Linked DNA regions of Homo sapiens: regions 2, 3 and 4 are each reported to be linked to region 1. The links are microRNA targets in miRTarBase. Many come from high-throughput screens and were not tested one by one. Region 1 holds a microRNA gene; each other region holds the end of a gene's coding sequence.

Evidence for each region. The annotated mature microRNA hsa-miR-5582-3p reads UAAAACUUUAAGUGUGCCUAGG and lies in region 1 at 4,338-4,359, shown strand. An mRNA with a match to its seed (bases 2 to 7 or 8) in the 3' UTR can be bound and repressed. Matches are read on the target gene's strand: a 7mer-m8 pairs with bases 2 to 8, a 7mer-A1 pairs with bases 2 to 7 and ends in A, and an 8mer does both.
Region 2: the mRNA of HMGN4 is a reported target of hsa-miR-5582-3p. Seed matches in the 3' UTR shown: 8mer at 2,322-2,329.
Region 3: miRTarBase lists CMTM4 as a target of hsa-miR-5582-3p. Seed matches in the 3' UTR shown: 7mer-m8 at 5,941-5,947 and 7mer-m8 at 3,979-3,985.
Region 4: miRTarBase lists SCIN as a target of hsa-miR-5582-3p. Seed matches in the 3' UTR shown: 8mer at 6,657-6,664.

Annotation. Positions count from the first base shown.
Region 1 is chr11:46,749,532-46,757,483 of GRCh38, reverse strand. It overlaps MIR5582 (microRNA 5582), which reads left to right and starts at 4,292; the gene lies at 4,292-4,359. It overlaps CKAP5 (cytoskeleton associated protein 5), which reads left to right. Exons shown (of 44, transcript NM_001008938.4): 36 at 2,417-2,596; 37 at 3,987-4,174; 38 at 4,774-4,849; 39 at 5,950-6,138; 40 at 6,229-6,366; 41 at 6,873-6,956; 42 at 7,051-7,210.
Region 2 is chr6:26,543,226-26,551,107 of GRCh38, forward strand. HMGN4 (high mobility group nucleosomal binding domain 4) reads left to right here. Exons shown (of 2, transcript NM_006353.3): 2 at 1,902-3,708. The coding sequence starts at 1,982. The coding sequence ends at 2,254. Among named protein-coding and RNA genes, the nearest start is that of TRA-CGC1-1, 6.3 kb to the right of the region's middle. RefSeq lists enhancers at 5,911-6,865, 7,125-7,659, 7,644-7,693.
Region 3 is chr16:66,616,061-66,624,012 of GRCh38, forward strand. CMTM4 (CKLF like MARVEL transmembrane domain containing 4) reads right to left here. Exons shown (of 4, transcript NM_181521.3): 3 at 7,344-7,442; 4 at 1-6,162. The coding sequence ends at 5,998. Among named protein-coding and RNA genes, the nearest start is that of CMTM3, 15 kb to the left of the region's middle. RefSeq lists an enhancer at 3,822-4,323.
Region 4 is chr7:12,650,863-12,658,814 of GRCh38, forward strand. SCIN (scinderin) reads left to right here. Exons shown (of 16, transcript NM_001112706.3): 15 at 979-1,039; 16 at 1,726-7,952. The coding sequence ends at 1,853. Among named protein-coding and RNA genes, the nearest start is that of ARL4A, 33 kb to the right of the region's middle.

The sequences.
Region 1 (7,952 bases):
AGTCTCGCCGTTGCCAAGTCTGGAGTGCAGTGGGGCGATTTCAGCTCACTGCAGCCTCTGCCTCCTGGGTTCAAGCAATTCTCCTGCCTCGGCCTCCCTAGCAGCTGGGATTACAGGCACCCACCACCACGCCCAGCTAATTTTTGTGTTTTTAGTAGAGACAGGGTTTCACCAGGTTGACCAGGCTGGTCTTGAACTCCCAACCTCAGGTGATCCACCTGCCTCGGCCTCCCAAAGTGCTGGGATTACAGGCGTGAGCCACTGCGTCAGGGTGATAAAAGGAAATTATGTGCTACACTGATAGGATCCAGTGACAGTTCCACATCACTTTGCTGATAATTCTAATGTTGCATAACCTGAATCATGGGAAACATCAGAGAAATACAAATTAAGGACATTTTATAAAGATTCAAGGTCAAAGCTGGGCGCTGTGGCTCATGCCTATAATCCCAGCACTTTGGGAGGCCGAGGTGGGCAGATCACCTGAGGTCAGGGGTTCGAGACCAGCCTGACCAACATGGAGAAACCCTGACTCTATTAAAAATACAAAAAAAAAAAAAAATAGCCGGGCATAGTGGCACATGCCTGTAATCCCAGCTACTCCGGAGGCTGAGGCAGGAGGATAGCTTGAACCCGGGAGGTGGAGGTTGCTATGAGCCAAGATTGTGCCATTGCACTCCAGCCTGGGCAACAAGAATGAAACTTTGTCTCAAAAAAAAAAAAAAAAAATTCAAGGTCCAGAAAGTCAAGGAAACACTGAAGAACTGTCCTACACTATAAAGAGACTGAGAGACATGACAGGTAAATGCAGTGCATGATTCTCGACTGGTCTTTTGCTTTAAAGGACATAATTGAGGTCATTAGAGAAAATGGAATGGGGTCTGAGGATTAGATGGTAGTAACATCAATGTTAATTTCTTGATGTTGATGGTTTTATTGTACTTATGAAGGAGAATGTCCTTGTTGTTAATAAGTATACCCTAAAGTATCAGGGTATGGAACATCAGATTGACAACTTACTCTTAAATGATTCAGGATAAAAGAGTTCCTTTACTACCCTTTCAACGTTTCTGTAATGTACTTTTTTTTTCACCTTTGCAGGTTTTTTGTTTGTATTAATTGTGGAAGAAATTACTCTGGCTGCTCTAGAGATAAGATTATATGCATGGCAAGAGTGAATTCAGCAATTTTTTTAGGAAGTTGTGGCCAAAATTTATATGAAAGATATTATGTGCCACTAGGATGATAATGGTGAAGAGGAAGGAAGTCATGGTTTCAGGGTTTCTTTTGGAAGTAGAATCCACAGAACTTGCCAATAGATTAGATATAAACAATGCCTTATTATCATTAGTGACAACCAGTGTACTGCAACAGAACACTGGACCAGTATGTGAGAAAGCTGAGTTTTTGAGTTTGGACCAGTAGTCTGATCTTTCTGAGCCTCACTTTTCATCTGTTAAATGGAGATCTTAATATCAGCCCTGTCTGAAGAGTCTAAAAAGCACTCTTTTTAATAAATTGAACATTTAAACATAAGTATTTTTGTTTTGTTTCTGAGACGGAGTCTCGCTTTGTCACCCAGGCTGGAGTTCAGTGTCGTGATCTCGGTTCACTGCATCCTCCGCCTCCTGGGTTCAAGCAATTCTCCTGCCTCAGCCTCCCGAGTAGCTGAGATTACAGGTGCCTACCACCATGCCAGGCTAATTTTTCTATTTTTGGTAGAGATGGGGTTTCACCATGTTGGCCAGGCTGATCTCCTACTCGTGACCTCAAGTGACTCACCTACCTTGGCCTCCCAAAGTGCTGGGATTACAGATGTGAGCCACTGTGCCCAGCCAAACATAAGGATTATTATTCCCTGAACTAGACAATGAGCCTCTTAGAATCGAACCTGTGACTAATGTATCTAGTATCTTGCTCAGTAAATATTTGCCGAATGACTGAATCCCTAAGGACTAGTTATTTATATTTAAATGGGGCCAGGTGCGGTGGCTCACGCCTGTAATCCCAGCACTTTGGGAAGCCAAGGTGGGTGGATCACGAGGTCAAGAGTTCGAGACCAGCCTGGCCAACATGGTGAAACCCCGTCTCTACTTAAAATACAAAAATTGGCGTGGTGGCAGGCGCCTGTAATCCTAGCTACTTAGGAGGCTGAGGCAGGAGAATCACTTGAAACCGGAAGGTGGAGGTTGCAGTGAGCCAAGATCGTGCCACTGCACACCAGCCTGGGTGAAAGCAAAATTCTCTCTCAAAATAATAAATGAATAAAATAAATAAGTAAATGGGCTTTTTTTTAAGGTAAGACTTTAGAAGTACTTTGCTAATAAATATTCTTATGGAGAAGTTTCATATAGTGTCTTCCGCTATTTTAGAAGTATGAAGCTTGGAAAATATATCTTGAAATTTTTGTTATCAGATCGATGAGGTCCTGAGACAGGAAGACAAAGCTGAAGCCATGTCCGGCCATATTGATCAGTTTCTGATAGCCACTTTTATGCAGCTAAGACTCATCTACAACACACACATGGCAGATGAGAAATTGGAGAAGGACGAGATCATCAAGTTGTATAGCTGTATCATTGGCAACATGATTTCGGTAAGGGCACCTCTGCAGAATTTCAGCTTCCCATCAATCTCTCAGCCTACAGAGGTTCAAAAGCCAGAGTCCATGCAGATGTTGCAGTGAGTCCTGTGTCACTTGGTAGAATTTTACATGCATTGTATATAGCAAGCTACTGATGGCTTCCATTGGATGTTTGGCTACACTCCATCCCACCTTACTGTTAGGATATAAAGTAACATGCTTACAGACTACCTAGCTTCTTCCGGCCAGTTTCTTCATCAGGCATGGTAGGCCATAGCTGCCTTTCCACAGATAAGTATGGTTCTATTAAAAATGCTAATTAGCCTGGTTTGATCAGTATACATTGTATACATGTGTTGAAATACCACTCTGTATTCCATAAATTTGTACAATTATTACATGTCAACTAAAAATAAAAGGGAAAAAATTTGTTAATGTTTTACCTGTAGAGCAGATTATAAGGATAATAAAGACATTCTCACTCAGATTTCAATATTCTTTCTTAAACTGGGGCTAAAAGGGTGGACTTAATGACACCAACTAGCCAGAAATTACAAATTTGGCATAACAGTAAATAATTTCACATGTAAAAACAAATACTTTGGCCAGGCACAGTGGCTCACACCTATAATCTCAGCACGTTGGGAGGCCAAGGCGGGTGGATCACAATGTCAGGAGTTCAAGATCAGCCTGGCCAAGATGGTGAAACCCCATCTCTACTAAAAATACAAAAAATTAGCCAGGCCTGGTGGCGGGCGCCTGTAATCCCAGCTACTCGGGAGGCTGAGGCAGAGAATTGCTTGAACCCAGGAGGCGGAGCTTTCAGTGAGCCGAGATCGTGCCACTGCACTCCAGTCTGGGCAACAGAGCAAGACTCTGTCTCAAAAAAAAAACAAAAAATTTCACAATTAGAAGCACACCGATTAATTTTGCCTATTACTAGAGGCTTGGGGGAGTGTGGTGATTTTGTTTTTTCTTTAATACTCTGAATTTTTACAAATATAACATAGCCGGGCGCGGTGGCTCACGCCTGTAATCCCAGCACTTCAGGAGGCCAAGGCAGGTGGATCACGAAGTCAGGAGATCGAGACCATCCTGGCTAACACGGTGAAACCCCATCTCTACTAAAAAAAAAAAATACAAAAATTAGCCCAGCGTGGTGGTGGGTGCCTGTAGTCCCAGCTACTCGGGAGACTGAGGCAGGAGAATGGCATGAACCGGGGAGGCAGAGCTTGCAGTAAGCCAAGATCACGCCACTGGCACTCCAGCCTGGGCGACAGAGGAGACTCCGTCTCAAAAAAAAAATACAACATAATTGAATATTTATCAGAATATGCCACCCACATTTCTTTACTCTCTATATTGAGTTTTACACCTCCCTGACACAAGTATGTCTGGATAGCTGTTTCAGATAGAGAGCCTTGCCCGGGAGGCCTCCACTGGAGTACTAAAAGACCTAATGCATGGCCTCATCACCTTAATGCTGGATTCTCGGATTGAAGATCTTGAGGAAGGACAACAGGTCATCCGCTCTGTGAACCTCTTGGTGGTGAAGGTTCTGGAGAAGTCAGACCAGACCAACATCCTGAGGTATATCTGTACTCTCAGCCAATAGAGCCTGGGGCATCCTCGCTTTTGTTTACACTTAGAAACCATAATGTCCGTAAGTCAACTTCCTAGGCAACCTAACAATCATAATCAACTTCCTAGGCACACTTAAAGTTATAGCTACATCAGTTATAACTATATCAGTTAAAACTTTAAGTGTGCCTAGGAAGTTGATTTATTACTCTTCTTCATCATGGACCAAAGGTATTTTAGCCTGAGACCATAGCTAAAACTAGTAAATACTTAGTTAGCCAGCCAATATCATGCATTTTCTATAATAGGACTGTAAAGTTTGTCAGTTACATTTTTCTTGTACATTTCAGGTACATTTTATTCTTTCTCAGCTACCAATGACAATGAAAAATAGAGTCACAAACCTTACACTTACCAAGTGGTGACTTAAAAGGCTTAAACAATGTTTATTTTCTTAACTGAATGTCAGGTAGTCCAGGACAATTCCTGATCCATGACCTCTCAGTTTATTAGATGAATAGAGTAATCTCACTTGCCCTTTCAACTGCTGATTCTAATTGGAATGCAGGTTTGAAACTTAATGCTGTTGTGTTGGGTTTTTCTTCCAGTGCCCTACTTGTTTTGCTCCAAGACAGCCTGCTAGCAACAGCCAGTTCTCCCAAATTCTCAGAGCTTGTTATGAAGGTGAAGTTGAAATGATTTGATCTCTTTTCTTTCAAAGATGCAATCACTTTGTTAAAAGTATGGGGAAAGAGGAATTGGAGCTAAGAAAGACATAGGCTCAAATCAACCAAGTCACACCTGAAAATATATTTTTCGTAATAAAAATATTAATAAATTTTTAAAAATTTAGCCAGGTGCAGTGGCATGCACCTATAGTAGCAGCTACTCAGGAGGCTGAGTTGAGGAGATTACTTGAACCCAGAAGTGAGCTTGATCATACCACTACACTCCAGCCTTGGCAACAGTGAGACCCCATCTCTTAAAAAATATATATATGGTTTTTTATATATATGTGTATTATATATATGTATATATGTATTATATATGTATATCTTAATATGTTATATATGTATATAATACACGTGTGTGTGTGTGTGTGTGTGTGTGTGTGTGTGTGTGTGTATATATATATATATATATATATATATATATATGAATTGGTCTTCAGTTTTTCCCTTCCTACAATTTATATTCTAAGTTCAGGCCTAAACAGTTCGTGGCCTCAAACAGTGAAAGGGAGGAAATATTTTGTAAATATTTTACTAATTCTCTGAGGATCAAAAGGAAAGAAGTTTGAAACAGATTTCATTTATTTTGGGGAAAAAGATATCTACAGCCCTATGATATTTGGTCTCTTTTGTGAAAGAGACCAAATGAACATATTTATAACATTGTAATACTGTTATTACACTGAATTAGTATCAGATATTTTGTCCCCTTGCATTAGATTTGGTTAAGCAACATGAACTACTTTACTCTCAGGAACGAAGGAAACCCAAGAGAGAATTTCTACCAGGTTAAATGATGGCCCCTAGCTCTGGGGAGTGGGAAGGAGTAGAGATGGATGATTAGATGAATGACTGGACACACTTCAGCTGGTGTCATGGTAGAAGTGATTAAAAATTTTCATGTTTTAGCAGCTGAACTTGAAAGATATGATGTGCCACATTTATAGCCCTGGCCATCTTTTAGAAGTGAGCTCAAAGCTTAGGGAAGATGAATGGTGACAAATTATCCTCATTCTTCAGTCACTCCTAACTCTTTTATTCTTTTTTCAATAGTGTCTCTGGAGAATGGTTCGACTGTTGCCTGATACCATCAATAGCATTAACCTAGACAGAATTCTTCTGGATATCCACATTTTCATGAAGGTCTTCCCCAAAGAGAAACTGAAGCAATGCAAAAGTGAATTTCCCATAAGGACCCTAAAGACCCTGCTACACACCTTATGCAAATTAAAAGGGCCCAAGGTGAGTAAGAATCGCAACTGGTCTCTGAGGGAGCTTGAGAGAAAATCATGGAAATGGCAGTGCTATCAGTCATGCATGTGTCTCCCTCAGATCCTGGACCACCTAACGATGATCGACAACAAAAACGAGTCTGAGCTGGAGGCCCATCTCTGCCGGATGATGAAGCACAGTATGGACCAGACTGGGAGCAAGTCTGATAAGGAAACAGAAAAGGGAGCATCTCGAATAGTGAGTGGCCTGACTTGAAAGATTGAGGGACATGAGGCTACACCGGAAGTGATCTTATCTAAGGTGTAGGTCACCAGGATATGCTTTCCGAAGGTCCAAGGTGAAGGCTCATGGACTGGTTGAATCAGTCTCCTGCTGTGGTGCAGTAACCATTTCCACCTTGAAATTTTAAAATCTAAACTAAGTATAACCATGTGTTTTTTGGTCCCCAAGAAAGATGCCTAAGGCATTGGTCACCAGATAAATAGCTAGTTCTGCTTAACATGGAAAGAATATGTCAGTTCCTTCTCCATCAAGTTGAGGTGGAAATCTGAGACTGGAGGCATTCAGTAACACAGAATGTTAGTGCTTCTGCTGCAAGACCTGCATCATCGGTGCATCTGTTATCTGTAGGAACATACCAATAAGGCCCAGATTTTGAGATATTTTCTGTTCATATCCAACCATCAGTTCCTAATTAATAACTCAAGTCTAACCAATTCTTCCTATGTCTTTCAACTTTTCAGGATGAAAAATCATCAAAGGCCAAAGTGAATGATTTCTTAGCTGAGATTTTTAAGAAGATTGGCTCTAAAGAAAACACTAAAGAGGTGAGAGTGAAAGGGTTAAGCAGAATAGGGGTCTGCTTTATGGTAAAGGGACACTAACATTCATCCCCACCTCTTCCCTTTTCCTGTTCACCAGGGACTAGCAGAGTTATATGAATATAAGAAGAAATACTCAGATGCTGACATTGAACCATTTCTGAAAAATTCCTCACAGTTCTTCCAGAGCTATGTCGAAAGAGGCCTTCGGGTGATTGAGATGGAGAGGGAGGGCAAAGGTCGTATTTCCACTTCAACAGGTATGGTTTCCTGTTATAGCTCCAGGAATAAGCTCAAAATAGCTCCTAGCACAGGAACCTGAAGTTTTGGTTAGTTTAAATTCATATCCATGAACCTCAATACTTAATGGTCACCAAATGGCCTTCCCATTGCTATATCCAGTGGTCAATTCTTAGCCACCTGAATTGACCCATCATCAGTATTTGACAATGGTAAATAAATTGTTCCCTGCCCTTGAGACAGCTTCTTCACTTCGCTTCCAGTTCTCCATGCTGTCTTGTTTTCCTCCAGTCTCACTGGCTATTCCTTCTTGGCCTTTGACTGATTCTTGCTCACTTGCTCTGACCTCTTTTTTTTTTTTTTTTTGAGATGGAGTTTCACTCTTGTTGCTCGGGCTGGAGTGCAGTGGTGCAATCTCGGGTTCAAGCTATTCTCCTGCCTCAGCCTCCCGAGTAGCTGGGATTACAGGCATGCGCCACCACGCCAGGCTAATTTTTTGTATTTTTAGTAAAGACGGGGTTTCTCCATGTTAGGCTGGTCTGGAACTCCTGACCTCAGGTGATCCGCCCGCCTCAGCCTCCCAAAGTGCTGAGATGATGCTCATGAGCCACTGCGCCTGGCCTCACTCTGACCTTTTAATGTGGACATCCCCCAGGGTTCAGTCTATGGTTGTCTTCTCTCTTTCTCTTATTTCCTTAATGAGTTCATCTACTTTCACCACTTTAAATAACATTTAAATCTCCAGCTTAGACCTCCTTCCTG
Region 2 (7,882 bases), not on the chromosome of region 1:
CCTTCATTGTAAGAGTAACTCCTTTTGTTTCCTAAAAATTGTTAAAATGATTCCTTAATGTTGCATTTGAAATAAAGGGAAAAAGACAAAAATTAGCAATAAATTCATGTAATGTCTAGGCAAGGATTTCTTCAGAAGAGAGCAGGTCAGGTGTAGTTAGATCAGTAGAACTGTATGTCTCAGTGGCACCATTACCTTTTTTTTTTTTTTTTTTGAAGCAGAGTCTCACTCTGTCCCCCAGGCTGGAGTGCAGTGGCACAATCTCGGCTCACTGCAACCTCCGCCTCCCAGGTTCAAGCAATTCTCAGGTGGATCACCTGATGTCAGGAGTTCGAGACTAGCCTGGCCAACACGGTGAAACCCTGTCTCTAGTAAAAATACAAAAATTGGCTGGGTATGGTGGCGTGCGCCTGTAATCCCAGCTACCCAGGAGGCTGAGGCAGGAGAATTGCTTGAACCCGGGAGGCAGAGGTTGCAGTGAGCCGAGATCGCACCACTGCACTCCAGCCTGGGTGACAGAACGAGACTCTGAGACTCTATCTCAAAAAAAAAAAAAAAAAAAAAAAAAAACTGGAGCAATTTGGAGACAAGATTAAAAAAATAATAATAACATTGTAGAATGGTGGCCACTCACAAGGTTACAGAATTTCCCAGTAAATGTTTTCAAGGGTGGGGCAGAAGGTATGATAGACAAAAGCTTTAAAAAAGTCACACAGTGCCCATGAATGCCAGCCCTAGGCCTAAGTCCTAATTACTCAAACTCAAACTATTTTCCATTTCCTACCTGTGTGGCTCTCAATCTGTGCTCTGGGCTACCCACATTTTTTAGTACTTTTATTAATTCTTGAGCAGACACATACAATTTTTCTGTGTAAGACATAGGTAATACTCCAGCCATGTGCTTCCCCTACAGTTTAAAGAAGAGAATGCAACCTCCCCCATCTCTGGACTAACCTCCATGCCTTCTCCAACTACATCCCTTTCCCAACTCCCAAGAGATGACCACTGTCCAATTTTTATTTATCCCTTTTTTTTTAAGTTTTACTATATGTTTGTGGCCTCAACATGTCATAGTTTTACATGTGTAAATGGATCTATAGTGTACATATTCTTCTGCAACTTGCTATTTTTCTTCGGCATTATATTCTTGAGATTCATCCTCGTTTTTGAACCTACCTGTAATCTATTTGTTTCTGCTGCTGAATGGTATTCCCTTTTATACATACTACCAAAATATATGCATCCCTTCTACTATTGAAGGACATTTGGGTGATTTACAGGTTTTTGAAATTACAGTGTTGCTAGAAACATTCTTGTGGAGATCTCCTGTCCACACCTCCAAGAATCCCTCTAAGTAAACACCTAGAAGTAAAATTGCTTTACACAATACCACTGTTTGCAGAGTGCTTTACAAATAACCACTGTTTCCAAAAGCAAATACACTAATTGGCACACACACACAGCAGTACATAAGGGTTTTGATTGCTCCATATCAGCTGAGCCCTTGATATTGTCAGACAACTTGGTTTTCCTCAGTTTGATAGATATGAAATGTTATATCCTATGCTTTTAATATGTACTTCTTATATATTTTTAGGTGCTTATTCCTCACTCATGCTTCCAAGAAGTACCTGTTAACATTTTTTGCCATAGTTTTAAAATTTTCATTTTGTCCTTTCCTCATGGATCTATAGGAATGCTTTATGTATTCAGGATTCTAACATTTTGTCCATTATATATTTTACATATATCTTTGCCAAGCTGGTACTTATTGTTTTACTTTTATTATGCTATCTTTTTTGATATACACGAATTATTAACAATATAGTCAATTTGATTTTTAACGTTTACATTCGTCAGTCTTTCCCTTTATGGTTTACGCTTTTTGTGTCTTGTTAAAGACATCTTTCCAGGAACAGCGTGAGGAGGACAGAAGCACCCAACAGGACTGCTCAAGCCACCTGCGAACACTGCTGCTACCATGCCCAAGAGAAAGGCAAAAGGAGATGCTAAAGGTGATAAAGCAAAGGTGAAGGATGAGCCACAGAGGAGATCAGCTCGGTTGTCTGCTAAACCAGCTCCTCCAAAACCAGAGCCCAGGCCTAAAAAGGCCTCTGCAAAGAAGGGAGAGAAGCTTCCCAAAGGGAGAAAGGGGAAAGCAGATGCTGGAAAGGATGGGAACAACCCTGCAAAAAACCGAGATGCCTCTACACTCCAGTCCCAGAAAGCGGAAGGCACTGGGGATGCCAAGTGAAATGTACATTTTTGAGAGCTCTGTACTTATAGTGACTCTACTGTTTGAAATACTATTTTTTTAAATCAAGTTTTATAAAAGTGTAGAATTTTGGCTTTTTTAAGTTATGTTGTTAGCACACAGGACACTTCCTTGTTGTCTTTTGTGGAAAGGGCAAGTACCACTAATAGGGTGTATCTCAGAAACTGAATTGAAATAAGGGAAAATAGGATTTTCTGTCCTGGTTTTTGAAGATTGTTCTTGATTCCCTTGATTCCCAGGAGAGATTCTCTGACATTCACGTGTCAGCCACTTTGGCACGGAAGCCTTACAGTGTGGGGAACCAAAACTTCGTGTCTCCCCTTTCCCCGATGCCATCAGCATAGACTTGACTTCCTTAAACCGAGAGTTTTGATGTGGCCTTGGCAACCCTAAAATCAGCTGTGTTAGGTAACAAAACTCAGGCTTTCTGTTGATGACATCGAGATGGTGTCACTTAAAAGAGCCAAGATTCCTGTTTTCAGTTTGTGGATTCATCCTGCTGGTTTTACTTTAGTCCCTCCATGTCAAAGTGGGCCTGAGAAAAGCTCATACATGCCTCATGTGAAGTGTCCACCCTCTCTGAAAATCTTTCTTGTTCAAAACAGCAACGACATATCTTGTTAACTTTTACGGTGACTTTTGGAGGAGGGGAGTTTGGAAATTGTAAAATGTTATAGATTGTTGCCTATTTCCTGCTGAAAGTAAATGTTTTTAAAAAGTATCATATAAAGCTGAATACAAATTGGTTTGGGGGGAGATCCTTTCCTACCCAAAGTCATAAATATATTCTTTACTGCCTTGTGGAAATTTTATAGTTTTGCCTTTCACATTTGTCTTTAGTCTGTCCTGAACTGATTTTTGTGAAAATTATGAGTTAGAAATTCAACTTAACATTTTTCATATTCGAAGTGGTTGTCTCTGCACTATTTACTGAAAAGTTCATCCTTTCCCCAGTGATTTGTAACACTGCCTCTTTCATAAATTAAATTTTTGTGTATGTGTGTGGGTCTTTTGATGGTTTCTATTCTGACTGACATCAATTTGTCTAATCTTGTAGCAGTACAGTACAGTCCTGATTATTGCAACTTTAGGAAAAGGTCTGATAAAAACCAAGATGCCTCCACATTTTGTCATAATTGTAACCAATTTCACCTCTGTCTCCAGTATCACCACAAAATTGTTCTTCCTTGGAGTGTCTTGGCTATTCTTAGCCAACTGTTCCTCCATATTACTTCTAGAATTAGACCAACAATTTATAAATCAAACAAACCCAAGAGCATTGAAATTTTGATTGGATTTGTATTGAATTTATAGATTAATCTGGTAAACCATGTCATCTTTACAATGTTGTCTTCCAATACATGAATATGGTACAGCTCTTCATTTACTTAGGCCTTTGAAATATCTTTCAATAAAGTTTATAATTTTCTCCATAAAGGTCTTCTTGTTAATATTTCCTAGGGACTTTATGCTTTTTAACACTACTTCGTATGGTATATTTTTAGTTACCACATTTTCTGTTTTTAGCTAATGTTGATTTCGATTTTTGTATCCAGCAGCCTTGCTACCTCTCATTCTTGTATCTGCATATTCTTGTGGGTTTGTTTGTTTTTTTTACATAGACAACCATATATTCTGTGTATACAAACAATTTTGTTTCTTCTTAGTCCTTATTATACCTGTAATTTCTTTTTCAAATGGTCAGCGTAGTCTAGGTGTTGGTGTCTGCTTTTTTTTTTTTTTTTTTTTTTTCCCAGACAGAGTCTCACTCTGTCTTCCAGACTGGAGTGCAGTGGTGTGATCTTGGCTCACTGCAACTTCCACCTCCCGGGTTCAAACGATTCTTCTGCCTCAGCCTCCGAGTACCTGGGACTACAGGCGCGCGCCACCACACCCGGCCAATGTTTGTATTTTTAGTAGAGACGGAGTTTCACCATGTTGGCCATGCTGGTCTCGAACTCCTGACCTCAGGTGATCCACCCGCCTCAGCCTCTCAAAGTGCTGGGATTACAGTCGTGCGCCACCACGCCCGGCCGTGTCTCTGCATTTTTTTTTGAAATGGAGTCTCACTCTGTTACCCAGGCTAGAGTGCAGTGGCGCAATCTCTGCTCACTGCAACCTCCGCCCCCGATTCTCCTGCCTCAGCCTCCCGAGTAGCTGGTATTACAGGCACCTACCACCAGGCCCGGCTAATTTTATTATTATTATTATTTTGCATTTTTAGAAGAGACGGGGTTTTGCCATATTGGCCAGGCTGATCTCAACCTCCTGGCCTCAAGTGATCAGCCCGCCTCGGCCTCCCAAAGTGCTGGGATTACAGGCATCAGCCACCATGCCTGGTGCCATTAGAGTTTCGAGCAAAGAAATGGCACAATCTAAGGTGTTTTATATATGTGTGTGTGTGAGTATGGCTGCTGCATGAGCAATAGACTAAGCTGTCACAGCAATCTAGGCAAAACATGTTGATGATTTGGACATGGTATGGAACGGTGAAGAGGTCTGAGAGAGTTGGCAGTAAATAATGCCAAGCTTGGATGATTGCTTAGCCTTTCTGAGCCACAATCTCCTCAGTAACAAAGCAAGAACTATTATCTATTTTGCAAGGTTTTGAAAAGAATTAGAGATACTTTATGGAAATGACTAGTAGTGCAATTTACCTCATTAGCATATTGATGCATAAAGCTCTGTTGAAGATTTGAAAAAAAGATTCATATTTCCCAGAATCTTACATCGCCACTGAAAAACAAGGAAAAAAGACAATTCGATTACTCCACAAAACTGAGACCCAGGCCACTCCATATGGAGCCCTTACTAAAACCAGTAAGTAGCATATATAGTAAAACTGGAATTACATAATAGCATTTTTTTCCATTGTAATAGTGAATTGCTGGCATTTCTACTTTGTCATGCCGTATTACCATCCTTCATCTGCTCAACTATTCCCAATCCATTTTATTTGATAAACAGCAAACATTTATCTGCACTTTATGCCTGACAACAGATTAGGATCAAAGATAAAAGAAATATTCCCTGTTCTCAGCTCAAAGTTGAATGAGAGCCTGGTGCAGTGGCTCACACCTGTAATCCCAGCACTTTGGGAGGCCAAGGCGGGCAGATCATTTGAGGTCAAGAGTTTGAGACCAGCCTGACCAACATAGTGAAACCCTGTCTCCTACTAAAAATACCAAAATATTAGCCAGGCGTGGTGGCGCATCCCTGCAGTCCCAGCTACTCAAGAGGCTGAGGCAGGAGAATCGCTTGAACCGGGGAGGCGGAGGTTGCAGAGAGCCGAGATGGCGCCACTGCACTCCAGCCTGGGCGACAGAGTGAAACTCCATCTCAAAAAAAAAAAAAAAAAAAAAAAAAGTTGAATGGGATAGAGAGATAGGTCACCATACAGTAGTGTGCTCTCTGTTATAACACAGCAAGAGACCCAAACCCTGATGCCAGGGCATGAAGGTGCCTTAGGGAGGACTTCCTGGAGTATGTTGACATATGACCAGCAAAATGAAAACAGAAAGGAGCTGGTCAAGCAAGGAGTGGGGAAAAGGCTTCCAGTAAGAATAATAACATTTACGAAGATGTTAAGAGAATATGGATAGTGCATATAGATGTGCATAGTAGTTGTTTACTTTTATTCTTTTTCACCCCTCTTGCTGTCATCTTAGGTGCATAGTAGATGTTCAATAAATTATTGTTGGATCAAAAAATTAAGATGAATAACCAAATTATATCAGGTTTCTGACTATAATAAAAGAGAATTATTAAGTGTTGTTGCCAAACTGTGTGCCCAGTGATTTACATGAAAAATTTTATTTCGAAAACCCTATGAGCTGAGTAGTATTGTTCTCATTTAACTTTACATTTAGACAAACATAAATTTAGACATATATCAGCCTGGGTGATCTAGAGGTTTTTTTGTTTGCTTGTTTGTTTTTTTGAGACGGAGTTTCACTCTTGTCGCCCAGGCTGGAGTGCATTAGCGCGATCTCAGCTCACTGCAACCTCCGCCTCCCGGGTTCAAGTGATTCTCTTGTCTCACCCTGCCGAGTGGCTGGAATTACAGGCGCCTGCCACCATGTCTGGCTAATCTTTTGTATTTGTTTTAGTCGAGACAGGGTTTCACCATTTTTGCCAGGCTGGTCTCGAACTCCTGACCTCGTGATCCACCCGCCTCGGCCTCCCAAAGTGCTGGGATTACAGGCGTGAGCCACCACGCCCGGCCTAGAGTTTTTAATAACCAAATTTCTGACCCTCACATCTGAGGCACTGAGCATGGAAGAGTTGGAAAGAAGAGGGAGGGAAACTTATTTTTCTGTATCTGTTCTTGCACCACTACCTTCTTTTCTCAATAGTTGTTGTGTTACAGAAAAAGGGTCCCGATCCAGACCCCAAGGGAGGGTTCTTGGCTCTCCCGCAAGAAAGAATTCAGGGCGAGTCCGCAGTGCAAAGTAAAAGCAGGTTTATTAAGAAAGTTAAGTAGTGAAAGTACAGCTACTCCATAGACAGAGTAGGGTGTTCCTGAAACGCGGAGGAAAGTGTCCACCCTAGATACATACCTGTAAGTATGGGGAGATGTGCTCTGCTACAAGGGTCTGTGATAAAGGATTAATTTTCTTATTATATTTTGTAAGAATCGATATTATTATCTTTAAAGCAAAATTTGGAATGCCTTTGTTCTCCAGATATGGGGACATCTAGACACTCCCAAGTCTGGGTCTGTTTAGTAAACATTATTAATTTGTTCCCTTAACCATAAACATCTAGAGGCTAGGAATGCCTGACTTTCTGGGAATGCAGCCCAGCAAAAGTCCCGGCCTCGTTTTCCTAGCCCTCACTCAAAATGGAGTCGCTCTGGTTCGAATGCCTCTCACAGAAATCCCGCTAAAATGTACCTCCCTCGGTTGCGGTGAGCCGTGATCGTGCCACTGCACTCCAGCCTGGGAGATAGAGTGAGAACTCCGTCTCAAAAAAAAAAAAAAAAAATACCTCCTTCTTCTCTCAAAACTCTCCAATGGCTTCCACCCTGGGTCATCAACATGGCCTGGAAGAGCCGTACTCTGGATACCCGAGGGCGCGGCCCCAGCGCCGCGACGCCCCGCCCCTCTGGCTGCTCCGCTCTGGGATGCACTTCCGACGCCCTCTAGGCTTGGGAGTTCCGCGCCTCTCGGTGTCGCCTGGGGGGCGTGCTCCGGTTGGCGCACTGATTCCCAGTTGGGTAGGGGAGGCTTGACTGAGCTCCCACCCGGAATTTCACCTTAGACCTTTAAAGACCTTGCTCCGGCCTCCCGCGCCAGCGCTAACACCTAGTCCTCTTTAGTGGAGTTCCGGCGGAAGGGGATGGCGGGCACCCGACGGTGGTCTCCTCCCAGATGGCGAATTTCCGCGGCTTCTTCATCTTTTAGCTCCCAGGGAGCCCTCTGGCCCCAGCATGAAGCCCATGGAGCCCTTTTCAAAATTGTATTTTTAAAAGCTTTTAAAAAATACACAGGATTTTAAAGAAAGCCAATTGTACTACAAAACAGTTTTCAAACGATTAAAATAATTTCATAGAGTAATGTGTGCTTCTCATTAATGCATTAAATATTAAACATCAAGACCCGTCTT
Region 3 (7,952 bases), not on the chromosome of region 1:
AAGTGTAAAGAGAAAATGGCCAAAACCTCAAAACTACCATTGTTGAAAACAATATTAAAAGGACACAATCTAAAATCATGCTACAAAAATAGTGTTATCTTGTTTAACTAAATGTACATCTTTTTTTCCAATTCCATGATTGACAAGAGTGCTTATGCGACGCATGGAAGGCACCAGAGGTGAAGTGATTATTTGCCTTAAAATATACAAAGAATTGCCTACTTTGAAAAAAAAATAGTCATACTTGTAAATAAATAGTTTAGTGTTTCTGCCATGGGTTCCTGAACCCCTACAAATTTCAACATATACAAATAGTTTCAATTCCTACCATTCTCTTAGAGGGAACCACGTCAAACAAAATCAAGTTAGGAAAAGCACTGATTTTATCCAAGTAGGTCAATTTGAGGCAAGATTCAAAAACTCATTTTAAAATGGGTTACAGAGTGAAAGAGTTGGGAACAGGCAGCCCCCTTTGGGCCTGGGTCAGCCTACGAGTCCATCCCAGGTGTCCTGCCCTCACATCTGCCAGCCCTCAGGCCGGCCAGGTCTCCCTTCAAACCCTGAGTATTTGCCTTCCTCACTTCTGCGAAGAGGGGAACAGAATCTTGAAGCTTGCAAAATCGATTCTGGAAAAAGCAGGCAAGCAAAGCAGGGCCTGTGGGGGGAAGCAGCGTGAGTCAGGCCTCACCCTGGTGCAAGGGCACCAGCAGGTCTCCCTCCTCTCCCCTCCTCACCATCCCTACGCGTCTCCTCACCATCCCTACGCGTGACTGACTTTCCTGATAAAAATGGGATACTTCCTACTGGGTGTCAGCACTGTCATCCTAAGGCAACTCAGACGTGATAGTTTTAGACTATGATCAAATCTCACACAAACCATTATCAGAATCTTGTTTCACACCATCTCTCTTTTCAGGCAGTTATGAAAAGAAACTCTGACCTGGCCCTAAATCCCATCAGCAAAGCTGACTAAGGTGGTCTGAGATATGTTCTTACTCCTAAACTCAAACTTTAAAAGTTTCAATAGCTCCCTGGGGGTCCAAGCCAAAGGCTCCCTGGCCTTTGTGTATTATGCATCCCAAAGAAAACACGCCACCCCAGGTGTCTAGATAGCAAGTCACCTGAATTAAAGCCTCAGCATAAAAAAACAAACATAGACAACAAACTTACCCTATGAAATAGATACACAGTTCAAGGACCCATCATCTGAACTTTTCTAGGCAAGTTGCCAGTGATTCAAACTCAGCAGGTTTGTGGGTGATTTTTTCCTTACTGTTACGTTTGTGGAGTAGGAAAAACTAGAAAGGAAAAAAAAATCCCAAAGGTTGAAAAACTGTATCCAAATGGAAAAAGAATATATTCCAGACAAAAGAAGGGAAAATACAATAGGACCCACTCCGCTTCAAGCTAAAGAGTGTACAAAATGCCACTCACTTGCATGAAGAAGAATTAAACAGAACATTCACTTTCGGAAGAAAATTTTTCTAGACCTAACAGATATTGACGGTATTTTCTCTCACAGTTTCTAAATAAAAGAAACATAAAAGGTCAAATATTTTAAATTACTTTCTCAACCAGACAGTTCTTGTGACTTGAATGATATCTGCTGAGAAGAGAAGAAACACAAGATTCTACAAAGCGCCAGGGAAGTTTACAAAGCTAAAAGCTGAGGGTGTCAGGCCTGCGTCCTGTCTGAGATGGCAGCCAAGCCAGCTTCAGAGTCACCTGCTGGACCCACATGTTCCTGAGCCAGATGCCAGGAGCTCACCCACAGGACGGGAAAGACCTGTCCCCAGCATCCCACTCTTGCCCTCAAGCTGACTGTGGAACGCGAGACAGCTTTCAAAGACAAGAGGACAGGAAGGCAGTTAACAAAGTACACGTTTCCAAGACAGCCTGAGCTGTCTAGTGCTGATAGCAGACAGGTGGGGTGTTCCAGGCCACTGCTTCCTCCCTTATCTCCCAGACCTGGCCGTGTGTGGACCTCACCAGCCTACCAAGCTGTTGGGCCTGGACGTGGGTGCTGATAAAATAAGACAAACCTGGAAAAAACCCTGGATTCTGCAACTTCACTAGGAAATAACAAGGCACCTAGAGACTTCACAAGCTAATGGCAGTCCCTGGAGCAGGAAGCAACTTGTTATTCTGCTCAAGAGAATCCACCAGCAGCTCTTGGCCTAGAAACTTTTTCCCCTTTCTGATACCTGTTTAACGTCATTATTACTCTGTAAACAAGATCTGGAGAAGATGACAGTCAGGCAGTGGCACAAAGACTTCATGACTGTTTTGTTTTGAACACAGATGAGACAATAGGAACCCTTAAATCATCACTGCCTTGCAGAATCACTAAATTGTTCAGGTGTCTCCATGCTCTATTCATCTCCTAGGTGCTAAGACCAACCCACAGAAAATCTGGCACAGAAAGGGATTAGACCTCAGTCCACCTCTCAGAGCACATGGATAGGTGACGGGTTTCTCATGTGAATCTACAAGAAAAGGTACGCCTGGGCCACACGCAGGACATGGCACCCACTAGGGTTGTTCAGGTCTCATTCACTGCAAGCAAGAATTCACGTACATGAGTGCACAAAGGTGTTGGAGCTTGGTCTCCTCAGGCTTAACCCAAGGCTGACTCACTAGGACAGCTTCCAAGAACCACAGATGTAACTGCAAACTTGAAGAGAGTCAGAATGTTTTCAACTGAGTCACGAAGCTGTCCCAGAAGCACCCGACATAGGGTGGAGGTCAGACACATTCCCTGGCTGCCCACAGGCGTGAGCCTTCCTGCCAGGGGACAGTAACAGGGCCCGAAGGGCTGGGGGTGCCGCTGGCTTCCCAGGGCCAAGCGCTCAGAGCTGGGCCGGACTTGCCCATGCTGGCTTCAGCTCACATTGCCAAGGAAGATGTGTATTGGGGCTGTGCAGGCTGCCACATTCTTGCTTTTTCTGTAGACAAAAGTCACCTCCCTCGGATGGCTGTTTACTTCAAATCAAACTTCTCTGACGAGATTTTAATCTGAAACTGCATCTGTTCTTCCCAGCTTTATGTGGGGCCAACAAGTATCTCCAGCCTTTCATGACTGTAATCCCTCTTTAAGGCAGGGAAAACATATTTCCCTCCCATGCCTTCAGCAGTGTGAAAGAAGGATATCAAAGAGAATCAGAGGGAAAAAATACCAAATCCACCCAATCAGTGCCAAAATAAACTTTCTCTGAGGACATCAGTGTTTGCATCCATCTAAAACCACCAGAGGTTCCACCAAATGCTTGAGGGTTTCAGCTGTACAGTGTCCAGGAAAAAACCCAAATGCACACAGCAACTGCAGTTTCTTCAAGTTTTGCTTTAAATGTGAAAACCAATATCGTCCCACCAGAACACTGAGAAAAACTAAGGTCGCTCAGCCTTCAAATGCCCCAAACCAAACTGATATTGGTCCCTATTGAAACTATTAAACGCAAAAACGCTTCCTTCAATTTGCCAAGAGGTCATTTTAAGGCCCCCAGATATCGATTGTCTTCTGTTTGCATATAGAGGCAATATAAGAAAAATATAGGCGTCTTCATATTCACCTTGGATAACCCTATTCCCTCCAGAACTTTCGTCACCACGTGGTCTATACATGATGACATGTGCAACCACACATTACATCAACTAGAAAGCGTCCATAGCACCACTTCCGGTTCTAGTGGGAGTTAATTAAATACAAGGAGAACATTTACAAAACCACCGAGGAGCCTCACGGCACAAAGGATATTAAATAGTTACAGGGACATAAATAATTCTGAAGAGTCTATCACGAAGATGCAAATTAACTCCTAAGTCACTCTCTGGCGTGTCATCCTTTTTGGTCATTCATCTGCATTTAGTTTCAGTGACTTCAGAACTATTTCTTGCAGCTGACAACATATCCTCAGGAGGCCAACCACCTGCCCCCCTCTTTCACCAGATGATCAAGTGGTTTTACTGAAGTGAGCTGGGAAAACTTGGGCAACAAGCCCACCTGAATGGTGTTCTTGTTTTCAATCTCACTTCAAAGATGGCCTTTTTTGGGGGCCAAGTAACATGATTCCCAGCAGGAGATTTCTGATAAAGCTCAGGATGGTCCTTCCAAGTGGGCCCCATTTAATGCAAGGCTGAGCCTTTGTGGCCCTATTTTAAAAGGAACTCTCAAAGAGAGATAAGCCCAATTTTGACTTTGCAAACACACTCAACAGACCTGACAGGCAGCACACCCAGCTGTGAGCTGGCCTGGCTGCCCTCTCTGTGGGAGCAGAGGGGAGACGAGTTGTTAACAGGCTAGCAGGGTCAGCCCCTGAGGCAGACGTGGTGCTCAGCCACATAGCCTGGGACACTGCTCCCAACTCAGATCGTACTGAAGGTGTTGGTGCAGGAAGCTAACCCCAACTCCGACCCCCAGCCCAGCAGTGTTGCCTGATCAACACTGTGAGCTCAGATGCTGTCCTTTTCTGGGGAATGAGACGCCACATGTCCATAAGGTGACGCTTTCTTGCACAGACCCCCCGCCGCCCCCTCGGAGTTATTTATTACACAGTACGCTGCTAAAGCTGTCAACATTTGTCAGCACTTGATCTTGGGGATTTCTCCATGTTACTGCAAAATCTTCCTGCCACAGTAAGTGCTTTTTGGTGAGGGCTAAACACAAAATGTTAGAGCTAAAGTGAGGTTTGTAAACATTAAAAACAGTTCAAAGAGGGAAAACCTGACAAACTAAAACAACTTTTTTCCATAAAAGATATAATTACTCTCTAATTTTTTAAAAAAACTACTGCATCATGGGGACTCACTGAACTCATTCACCACACACAATAATCTTCACTTTATCAAGAATCAATCAGAAACCTTAAGTAGCTAGGATTTTTCCCCCCAACAACTCCCAAGAATGATGTCTACAGTTATGACACTGAGGCGCCCAAAGCGACAATTAGTGCCTTCTGAAACATGGGTGGAAGGGTGTGTTCTGGTGCAAATTCAAGTATTTTCAAATCCTAGACGAATCTGCTCAGAATCATTTTAGAACTCTTTGCAGGCATTTAGAAAATTAGCACACATCCCTAAAATAGAGGGGTGTGTGTGTGCATGTGTGCGCGCACGCGTGTGCATGCTGTTTTTTAACACAAACACCTCCCACCTGCGGTTCATGAAGCCAGCAAATGGGCAAGTGCTTTGGCTGGTGGAGTAGGCTTGTTTCTTTCATGGCTTTTACCTGAGAAGGTAAAATGACTGAAAATCTGCAATTCAGCCTCAAAGTATTTAGGGTAGGCAGGAAACTGGAAAACAAGATAGTCCCCATAACAAGATGGCCCCCATATTCCTGGAGAAGAATCTGGGGTTCAGGAAGGTGATTCATTTGAGGAAGAATCAAGTGATTTCTCAGCAGAGTAGGAAACAAAAGGTCACCCTTCCTTGAGTCAGAGGTCCCTGGGAGCCATCCTAACAGGACATCAGCTTTCCCCAGCCCTGTGGCCTTTGGGCTGGTGCTGGCTGCCTGGGGGCCCTGGCATGGAAGATGAGGAGTGGGCTGGATCCCAGCACGCAGACTCAACACTGACTTGGAGCAGGTGGTGCCTAAGGCTGCCTGAGAACCACTGCCGACTGACCGTTCCAATGCTGTCCCTTCATTCCTTCATATTTCCCCCCTCTTAGCAGCCCCATTTAATCCAAAGTCTTGTTACAAATACACACGACAAGGTGGCTCAGAGTCAAAGGAAGCCTGTGCTTCAGGGCAGGTAAGACCTCAAGTGGACCTGGGCAGTGACGCCGGCTGCTCCACAGCCCCAAACGCTGAGGAACGTGGGCCTCCCAACTCCACCGCGGACCCGCCCACTGGGCCACTCGGGAAACCCTTTCCCAAAATGAACTTTTACCAAAGAGGACAAAATTCAACTGAATCACATGGAAATCTGACAGGACAAGGGAAAGAAAACTTGACTGAGAGACAGGCACGAGGACGGGAGGGAGGAGGATCCAGGCAGGTCCTCACGTGTCCAGGCGCTGGATCTCAGGGCGACTGTCCACATCCCTGGACTCCGTGCGGGCTCGGATGTAGTCATTGGTGCTCTGCTGGCGGACGCTGACTCTCCATTTCTGCACTGCCAGGAATGTGTTCACTGCATATGCCGCAGTCGCCAAGAAGCCAAATATCTAAAAACACACCAGCACAGTTAGTCCTCGGGCACGTGGCCTGGCCCCTCAAGGCTTCTGTGGTGACCCAAGCCACATGCAGCCCCTTCCTGCTCTGCCAGCTGATCATTACAACCCTGTGCCTTCATTCCTTGATCTCTTCCCCCTCTCAGCAGCCCCATTTGATCTAAAGTCTTGTTTCAAATACATATGACGGGGTGGCTCAGAGTCAAAGGGAAGCCTGTGCCCAGCCCTGCTGGATGTGTGGCTGTCACACCACAGCTGAGTCTCTAGTCATGTGACACACAGAAAATCTTGCCTGACCTAAAGACAGCCTAAGGTTTCTTTTGAAGTATTTTGGACGTATAAAAAAATAAATCACAAAAGTACCTCTTTTACTGCAACTTCAGGGCCTCTGGTCCCAGATGAGAAAATACAGTGCAGACAAAATGTAACATAGACAGAAAATCAGGGTTTCGCATGTGGGTCCCAAATCAAGCCACAGGGCCAATGTTCCACATCACAGCCCCCATCCCACACCTGCCTCTCATGGGGCAGCTCCAAGTAAGCAGCTCCAGAGTAAGAAGCACAGAGTTTTAATTATTAAGACTTACAAATCGCCTGAGTGGCACCTGGGAGAGCAGTTCGTTTAATCATTTATAAACCTTTTAATCCCCCCATTACAAAAAGGATAACTGTTCCTCATAAACTGAGAACAATACAGAAATGCAGGGCATGGAGAGGGGAAGTCCTACATTATCTGGTCCCCACCTGCCGTGGCATTTCCACCTTGAAATGTCATGTGACTGCTAAATGGTGTCATGACTGCATTCAAGAACCCTCCCTTCCCCAGGCAGATAAGGCTCTTAGACATCAAGGACTGTGTTGGAAACGAACCAAAGCAGGGGTTCTTGAACTTGAGAGCACATCTGTATCATCCAGAGGGTTACTTCAAATACATTTCTGACTCAGTAGCTCTGGAGCGGAGCCTAAGGATGTCTAACAGATGCCAAGGCTGCTGTTCTGGGGCCCATACTTTGAGAACCACAGCACTGAAGGGACTGGGACCCCCACTGGCCCAGTAACATCATCTTTAGCAAAGAAAAGCCACAGGAGGGGGAGCAGGACACATGCCAGGGACAGGCGAGCAGGTCACAGGAGGTCCCCAGATCAGCTTGCTTTAACCATTTGAGTTTGCTTACCACGGCAGCAATTTCTGCTCCGGCTCTATGGTTTAAAGCAGCCAGTACGATTGAAGCAATAAAGAAAAGGAAAGCGCTGAGTCCAGTGTTGACCAAATCCTAAAGGGAGAGACAAAATAAACCAAGTGAAAAGAACCATTCCATCTTTGCTCTAAAAGCAACTGGAGAACTTTCAAAATAAGACCCACGATACCCAACCTCCCTGGTGGCTCCATATTTCAGTCTCAATGTCACAGGGTTACTGGTCACACAAAAGAAGGCAAAGTTAACAGTTTATGACACTACTTGATAAATCACCACCACAAAATCTACATTTTCACCAACCCCACTACCCTTTCTGAAGAAATAGTAACCAAAATTGCTAACACTAATTACCATTTAGAGGTCTGGTGCCATCTTTTAAAAACCACACTCAAATCATCTTGCTATGGACAAAGCTCCCCAAGGATCCAAATGTACTAAAACTGGTGAAATCCCTCCAGCATTCCCTGCACTCACATGTGACATTCAAAACAAACTTTCACACAGAGAGCACACTTAGCCAGACTTCACGCTCTTTCTCAAGCAGTCTTTCAAGCCTCTATGTCACTAAAGCCTGGAGAATTTTCT
Region 4 (7,952 bases), not on the chromosome of region 1:
GAGGGAGTCTGGGATCACCCACAGACAAGCTCTACACGTGGTCTACATGTGGTCTCTTCCAGCCAAGATCCACCTCTAGGAAATGGGGATAATGACTGTGTAAGGGCCAAGGGAAAATTTCCCCTTCACTGTCCACAGGTTCACATAAAAATCAGTTGATAAAGGGCAGATTAATAGGAGAAAAGGCATACAAATATATTAATGTTCACAGGAGTCATACAGAATGCAAGAACTAAATAAATGGCTGGATGGTTGATGCTTTTCTACCATTTTGAAGTTACAGAAAGAATGGGGGATTGCAGGATGGCAAAACTGGTTATGGGAGGGAGAGAAGAGGCCTGGCTAGGAAAGATGGTCTTGTTATGGATAAAACCTCACATAAAGTATAGATGGTAAATGTTTCTTTCAGACCTTTAAGAGTGTGATACTCTCAGTTAATCTTCCCTAGATCCCGAAAAGGGAGGGCCTCAAAGAAAGTCCGGCTGCACCACTGCAGATTCTCTACAGATGCAGATCTTCCCCTACAAAAGGCAGATTTGCAGGGCTATTTCTGTTTGCAAGTCCTCTGAACAGCCATCTCGAAATATGTCAAAGAAGTGTATTCGGAGGTGAAATATTTTGGTTTCCTTCGACTGCTGTCACACCCTAGGGGGTGGATGAAAAAAAAAAGTCCACCCAGACAATCTGTTTTTTTTTGTGAAAGATCACTTTACAAACTAGAAAGTACCATGTAAACATAAAATATCCAAGTGTGAAATCTGAAGTGAAACAGGCTGGATGTAGATTTAGGTGTCTCCTGATGAGTGTGAACACTGGGAAAGTGATGGTACCTCTCTGGGCCACCACCTCCACGTCCCTAACTTCTGCGGATATTGTGAAGATTGAATGAGCAATGTGTGTGTGAAGCACTTTACATAGGGCCTAGCACTGAGTCAACATCCCAGAAATCATACATATTGTTATTGTTTCATTTTTCAGATATTTATTTGGATTGGCAAAGATGCTAATGAAGTTGAGAAAAAAGAATCTCTGAAGTCTGGTAAGCTCAATCGATGGACCATTATAGCAGTAACCGGGCACCATTATGACCGAGTGTCTGGCTTGCTCTTTGCCACCATGTCTTACAAAAATACATTTCAAAATCAAGAAGTAGCTTAGCATTCCTCCTCAAAACTAAAGAGTAATGGGATTTTTTGAACTGGAGAATTTCCAAATGGGCACAAGAAAACAATATGTTTTGTTATCTAATCTAGAATAGAATTATATCAATTTAATCTGAAAACTTAAATTAATTTCAACCCTTGTTTTATTATAAGAGTAAAACCTCCATGACTGTGATAAGCCAGATTTTTTAAACTTCCTTTTGACTATGCTGTTCTTTCTGGCACAATTTTCCTTTTACTGAAACGTATAACAATAATTATGCCACAAGGACAATTCCATAAAACTTGGAATTCTTTCAGGCATTAATGAGATTCACATGTTGCCTTTCATGGCAGACGAGAGAAATCAAAAAGAAATTGTATTTGTCTACCTGGTCAATGGAAATTTATTACTTTGATTTGAAGAATTGTATTCGAAGAATTTTCATTTTCAATGTAGCCAATATTTATTTGTTCTTCTGGAAATTTAATTCATTACTTTTATTCGAAGAATTTTCAATCTGCAGTTACTTTAGTTTAACCCAAACTAACTGAATTTATATGTCTTTACAACTTTTTTTAGCCAAAATGTACCTTGAGACAGACCCTTCTGGAAGAGACAAGAGGACACCAATTGTCATCATAAAACAGGGCCATGAGCCACCCACATTCACAGGCTGGTTCCTGGGCTGGGATTCCAGCAAGTGGTAAATTGGTATTTGTAAAAAGCAAACAAACATTACAAGGCAGTTATCTCATTGCTGTTTTGGGAGAGGAACGGGAAAAGCTTTTTGCTTATTTGTCTTTTGAAAATTAAGGCTGGGCGCGGTGGCTCACACCTGTAATCCCAGCACTTTGAGAGGATGAGGTAGGCGGATCACTGGGGTCAGGATTTCGAGACCAGCCTGGCCAACATGGCGAAACCTCGCCTCTACTAAAAATACAAAAAAATTAGCTGCGCGTGGTGGTGCACGCCTGTAGTCCCTGCTACTTGGAAGGCTGAGACAGGAAAATTGCTTGAACCCAGGAGGCTGAGGTTGCAGTGAGCCAGGATTGCGCCACCACACTCCAGCCTGGGCAACAGAGACTCTGTCTCAAAAAAAAAAAAAAAAAAAATTAACCTCAACCAAACGCCTATTTTTTAATGCTTAGTTTTGGCTTGAAATTCTTCTTCACCTGGAGTTTTCTTACGTTAATACATTAAAATAACCTGAAGGAAACTTTCGTTATGGGCCAATATTAGCTCTTATGGAAACTGATTTATATCTTTTTTATGACCTTTCAAAAGTAAAATACTATGCATAATCTAGAAAGATTTGTCAGATAGGAAATTTTATAATGCATTAGCCATTAGTCAGAGTTGTTTTTTAACATGCCAGAGAAAAAGTTGTAATGCCTTGGAAGTTATTCTCTTTTCTATAGATTGTGTTCAAAAGATGTGTATACTTGCAATAAGGTTTATGTTAAGGTGGCTTTAACAATTGGTTGCTATTTTCCTTCTTTAGTCAATATGACTTTGATGTCATTAACTGCTAAGTGTTATTTTCTAAGAGGAATTTTATCTTTTTTTTAACCTTATTAAAAGCCTTTGAAAACACAGCTCTTTCATGACAAAATGAATTGTATTGTTATCCACTTAGATACATGTACATGTACAGTACATGTTTAATATCACAGGAGATCAAAAAGACAATGCACAGGGGAGTATCCCAGGGAGCAGAGCCAAGTTCAAGTAAGTTAACGATATCAAGTTACTTACTGGCAGGTAGCCACTAGAGAATCTTAGCAATTTTTGTCCTGCAAGATTTCAGCAAAGCTACAGAAAAGTGAGTTTTTATGTTTTCCATTCTTCCCTTTTCTAAGTAATAATTTTTATCGCAGTTACCCTGATTCTATTCCATTCCATTCTATTCTATTCTATTATTTCATTCTATTTTATTTCCAATATACCATTGTATATCAGTATATACTGATACACTGAGTGGCAGTTGCATTATCTACTAATCTATATAGGTCATTGAAAAAGAAGAAGCTACGTTAGAACCCATGGAAAGAACTTTGCCTCATGTAGAGATTCTAGATTCTTAGCCAAAAGCTCAGAATTGTTGGGCCCTAAAGGATGAACAATGTAGGGTCCAACAATTCATCCCACATGAATTTTTCTCATCCTTCATGTGGAATGAAAAAACTAAAGAGACAACTGACTTACCACACAAATGGACTATGGTAGAAGCTGCTGTCCCTTAGTATTGAATATCTCTATTTTCTTTTAATCATAGAATTCACTGATATTTTAGCAGATAATGTGGCCGTCCAGGCAGGCATGAGATTTCTCAGCCTTACTTCAACTTGATTATGACCATGTGACCCAATTCTGACATTTGCCTAAAGGAAAATTTACCTAAAAAGGCGTTTTCTTGCTATGGCAGTGTAACCTGTACTAATAAATATAGTGCTAGTCCTGCATGCAACAAAAATGATGTAAGTAGACATTTAACATTTCTAGGAATGTAATTGAGTGAAAAATAATTTTTAAAAATATTTATAAATATCTTCTGGGTCAAGCTGAATATTTTTTGAAGGATGATGAGAATAAAATGATTTAATAAGTAGTACTTTTTCACAAAATTAGTAAAGGTCAAGGTGAGTGGCTTAGGGTACACTGTATTTTACGATGTTTCTCTAGTTTAGCCAGTGGTTTTTCTCATCTCCAATTTATAGCACAGGCCGAGGCATATAGTAGGGTCTCAGTTAATATTTATTGAATGGCAATATCAAAAATGAGATCAGCAGCAAGATGATAAGGCAGAATAAAAGTTGCTGAGAGCCTAAAATGATTATTCAGTTCTGTTGCAGGGTTTTAACCTGCCCAAAGGATGGAAAAAGAAGAACATAAGCATAATTTCTGAATGCATCACGGCAAAGATGCATGTACTCATGAAGCATAAAATTAAAAATATGATACATTCACTACATGAAAATATGATATACGGTTTTTCTTCAGTATCCGCGGGAGATTGGCTCGAGGAACCCCATGGATACCAACATCCTTGAATGCTCAAGTCCCTTATATAAAACGGCATAGTATTTGCATAAAACCTATACCATTCTCCTGTATACTCTAAGTCATCTCTGCGTTACTTATAATACCTAATACAGTGTAAACGCTGTGTAAACAGTTGTTATACTATATTGGTTTTTTAATTTGCATTACTTTTGTATTGTTGTATTATTTTATTGTTTTTCCCCAAATAGTTTTGATCCGCAGATGTAGAACCCACAGATATGATAAATCAACTGTATCTAGTACCCAAAACAGATGAGTAACTTAGAAATTAATATGTAATACATACAGCTAATGTTATAGCTACTTAAGGAATTCCTTTCACTGAAAAGAAACTCTTACAAATCAATGAGTCAACAACCCAATGGAAAAATGGCCAAAAGACATGAATAGAAGTTCACAGAAAAGAATGAAAATGACCAGTAAATAATGAAAAGATGTTCTAAGACACTCTTAATTAAATAAATTCACAATAAAATAATCATACTTTTATCTATCTACCAGATTAGCAAATGTTAAAATATTAAAATGTTAGTGGTCATCAAAATGTAGGGTTACAGGTTCACCCATACACTGTTAATAGATGTATAAACTGGTCAAAACTTTTTGATCCATAGCACAGTATTACTTTTGTAAACATACACAAAAAATATTATATATTTGCCAAACGTATGTACTAATCTAAAACCAAACACATTAGACTAGGTACATGTGGAGAAAGAGATACAGGTGTTCCCTAGCAAGTTAATATGCTTGTGTCTCTTCAAACCAATATATTGGCATATTTATCTAATATTTAATCAGAAGAAAGAAAGAACAGAAAGACCCAGGAAGCCTACTGTTAGTAGAGGTCAGCCTCATCTTTTCTCTCTGATTCAAGAAATTCATACTCAACTCAGTCAAACAGAGGTCCTGCATTTACCTCTTGGTGCCGGAGAGCCTTGGTGAGCCATTTAGATCCTCTGTATCTTCTCAAGCACAATCCTCAGTGTTCTCTTCTCGTCTTAGATAGCTCATCAAATAATATTTCCCACCACTTATTTCTAGCAGTTCTGGTAAAGAGAATGGCCTTCACATTGTATTTTGAACAATGTTTTGGCCTCCAGTAATGATTAGGAACACACTATAAACATAAAACATCAGTCCACTTAACTCATTATTCAGTCATCAAGCAATTCTTGTCCCAATCATTCTCCAAAGCTATATACTGTGAATTTATACTGTTGTGTAGTGACACAAGCCCTTCTGCTGAAAAAGTAGGTAGATAATTACTTTGAACTGAAAGAAAACACTTATTTTATTTTCTTTTAAACCTAATTTATTTTAAACCTAATTTATTTATTTTAAACCTAATTTATTTTAAACCTAATTTATTTATTTTAAACATTTATTTTAAACCTAATTCATTTGAACTGAACTTGAATTTAAAAGCCTACAAATGCCCCGCATATGTAGAATTATCATTCATTCCGTGTTCTTGCTCTTGGATAAAACGGACAACTCAGAGAAAAAACTGGCTTATAAATGCACTTCACAAAAACTGTTAGAAAAGTAGCCATTAAACCTGTAAAAAGGCCGGGCGCAGTGGCTGACGCCTGTAATCCCAGCACTTTGAAAGGCCAAGGCGGTTGGATCACGAGGCCAGGAGTCCGAGACCAGCCTGACCAACATAGTGAAACCCCGTCTCTACTAAAAATACAAAAAATTAGCTGGGCGTAGTGGCGGGCGCCTGTAATCCTAGCTACTCGGGAGGCTGAGGCAGGAGAATCGCTTGAACCCGGGAGGCGGAGGTTGGAGCGAAAGTACGCGCCACTGTACTCCAGCCTGCGTGACGATGAGAGTCTCCGTCTCGGGGGAAGAAAAAAAAAACCTGTAAAAAGTGGCTCAACTTTAATATTCATTAGGAAATGACTAAAATCAAATATTTTACTTGGTAATGCCAAGTAAAAATACAGGAGAGGATATAGTGAAACTGGAGCTTACATCCACTACTTGGGAAGTATAAATTGATACAATGGGTTTGAACAGTTTTTGTATTTTCTACTAAAATGAACATACACATATCCTATAATCCAGAAATCCCACTCCATGGTGTGTACCCAACAAAAATGCATACATGTGTGTACTAAAGGATATAATATGATTTTTTTTTTTTTTTTTTTTTTTTTGAGATAGGTTCTCACTCTGTTGCCCAGGCTGGAGTACAGTAGCGATCTCTGCTCACTGCAATCTCTGCCTCCTGGGTTCAAGCAATCCTCCCACCTCAGTCTCCCCAGGAGCTGGGACTCTAGGTGCGTGCCACCACGCCCAGCTAATTCTTTGTAGAGATGGGGTTTTGCCATGTTGTCCAGGCTGGTCTTGAACTCCTAGACTCAGGAAATCCACCTGCCTTGGCCTCCCAATATGCTGGGATTACAGGCATGAGCCACCGCATCTGGACACGAATTTTTAAGTTTTATATATGTGTGTGTATATATATATATATATATATATATATATATATATTTTTTTTTTTTTTTTTTTTTTTTTTGCATTGGCAAAAAAACAAAGATATTGTTTAGCAATTTCCTTGTATAATGCAATCAGTGGAAGACAAATCAGAGGTATTATTTTCCCTTGGGCCTTTGCAGCCTGTGTTGTTTTTCTCTTTTTCATATTGATGTGAAAAGCAGCCAAGTATTATTTGACAACATCAGTCCCTTATTAAGATGTTATTTCTAGTTTATAATTGACTATGGCATTTGCATGCATTTCATCATGTCTCCATTTCTTCGGAATGATAATTTCTAATATACTTTTCTTCTATTATAGGAATAAGAATTCAGTAGTCATATTTCCTGTTGCCTATAAAAAATTGATGCTTTAATTTAGTTAACATGACAAACTCCATCTTATTTAGAGAGATTATTTTTGATGTTATTATAATAAAAATGACACCTTTACTAAAAATGTCTCATCATAAATTGTTTTCCATTATTTCTGTGCTGATTGCAAACAATACTGAATTAAAATATCCCTGCAAGTTCACTGTGACTCAATCTAAGGTTTTAATAATTCATGAAATAAAACTAATGTTGATGTTATCCAAATCATTCTAACGCCAACTTCTAGGTAAACAGTAAACAAGAATAAGCAAATTTGAGTTTTCCTAATTATTTGACATTGTCATTAGCTTGTGATCCTTAGATGGAATATATTTTGCCAGATCTCACCTCCCAGGGAACTGATGAGCTTTAACTGGAATAGTAGTGAGAATGATAGAGCAGGGCCCTTAACTCCTTAGAAAGGTCAAAGGAAGAGGTGAATGTGGGCAGGGTTTCACTGGAGTATTGACACACCAAAGATGCTATGTAGGTGAAAATCTCTCCTAATGCATTCCCTTTCCAACGAACCTGAGCCTGGATTCTTCAGTAACACAATGCCTTCTGAGAAACAATGTTGTTCCACATTTTAGAGTTTTGGCATGCATAATGGAGTTTATGGCAGAGTTCAGAGGATACAATGAAACAAGAAAGGGAGGCAACTGATGTTGTTTGATTATCTCCATTATTTTGAAGGAGCCAGGTGCTTGGGGAACCTGGTTGTACAGAAAGGTGATGCCAAGACTCTCTTGTATGATTTTCCTCTCTAGCTTGGGGCTGCACCCTCTGCTGTGGGAAGGAGTCCTCAAGGTATTAATATACATCCTATCATTTATTTTAGATACAGATAGCATTAGAGTTTATCAGTAAAGTTGGGCAACTCAT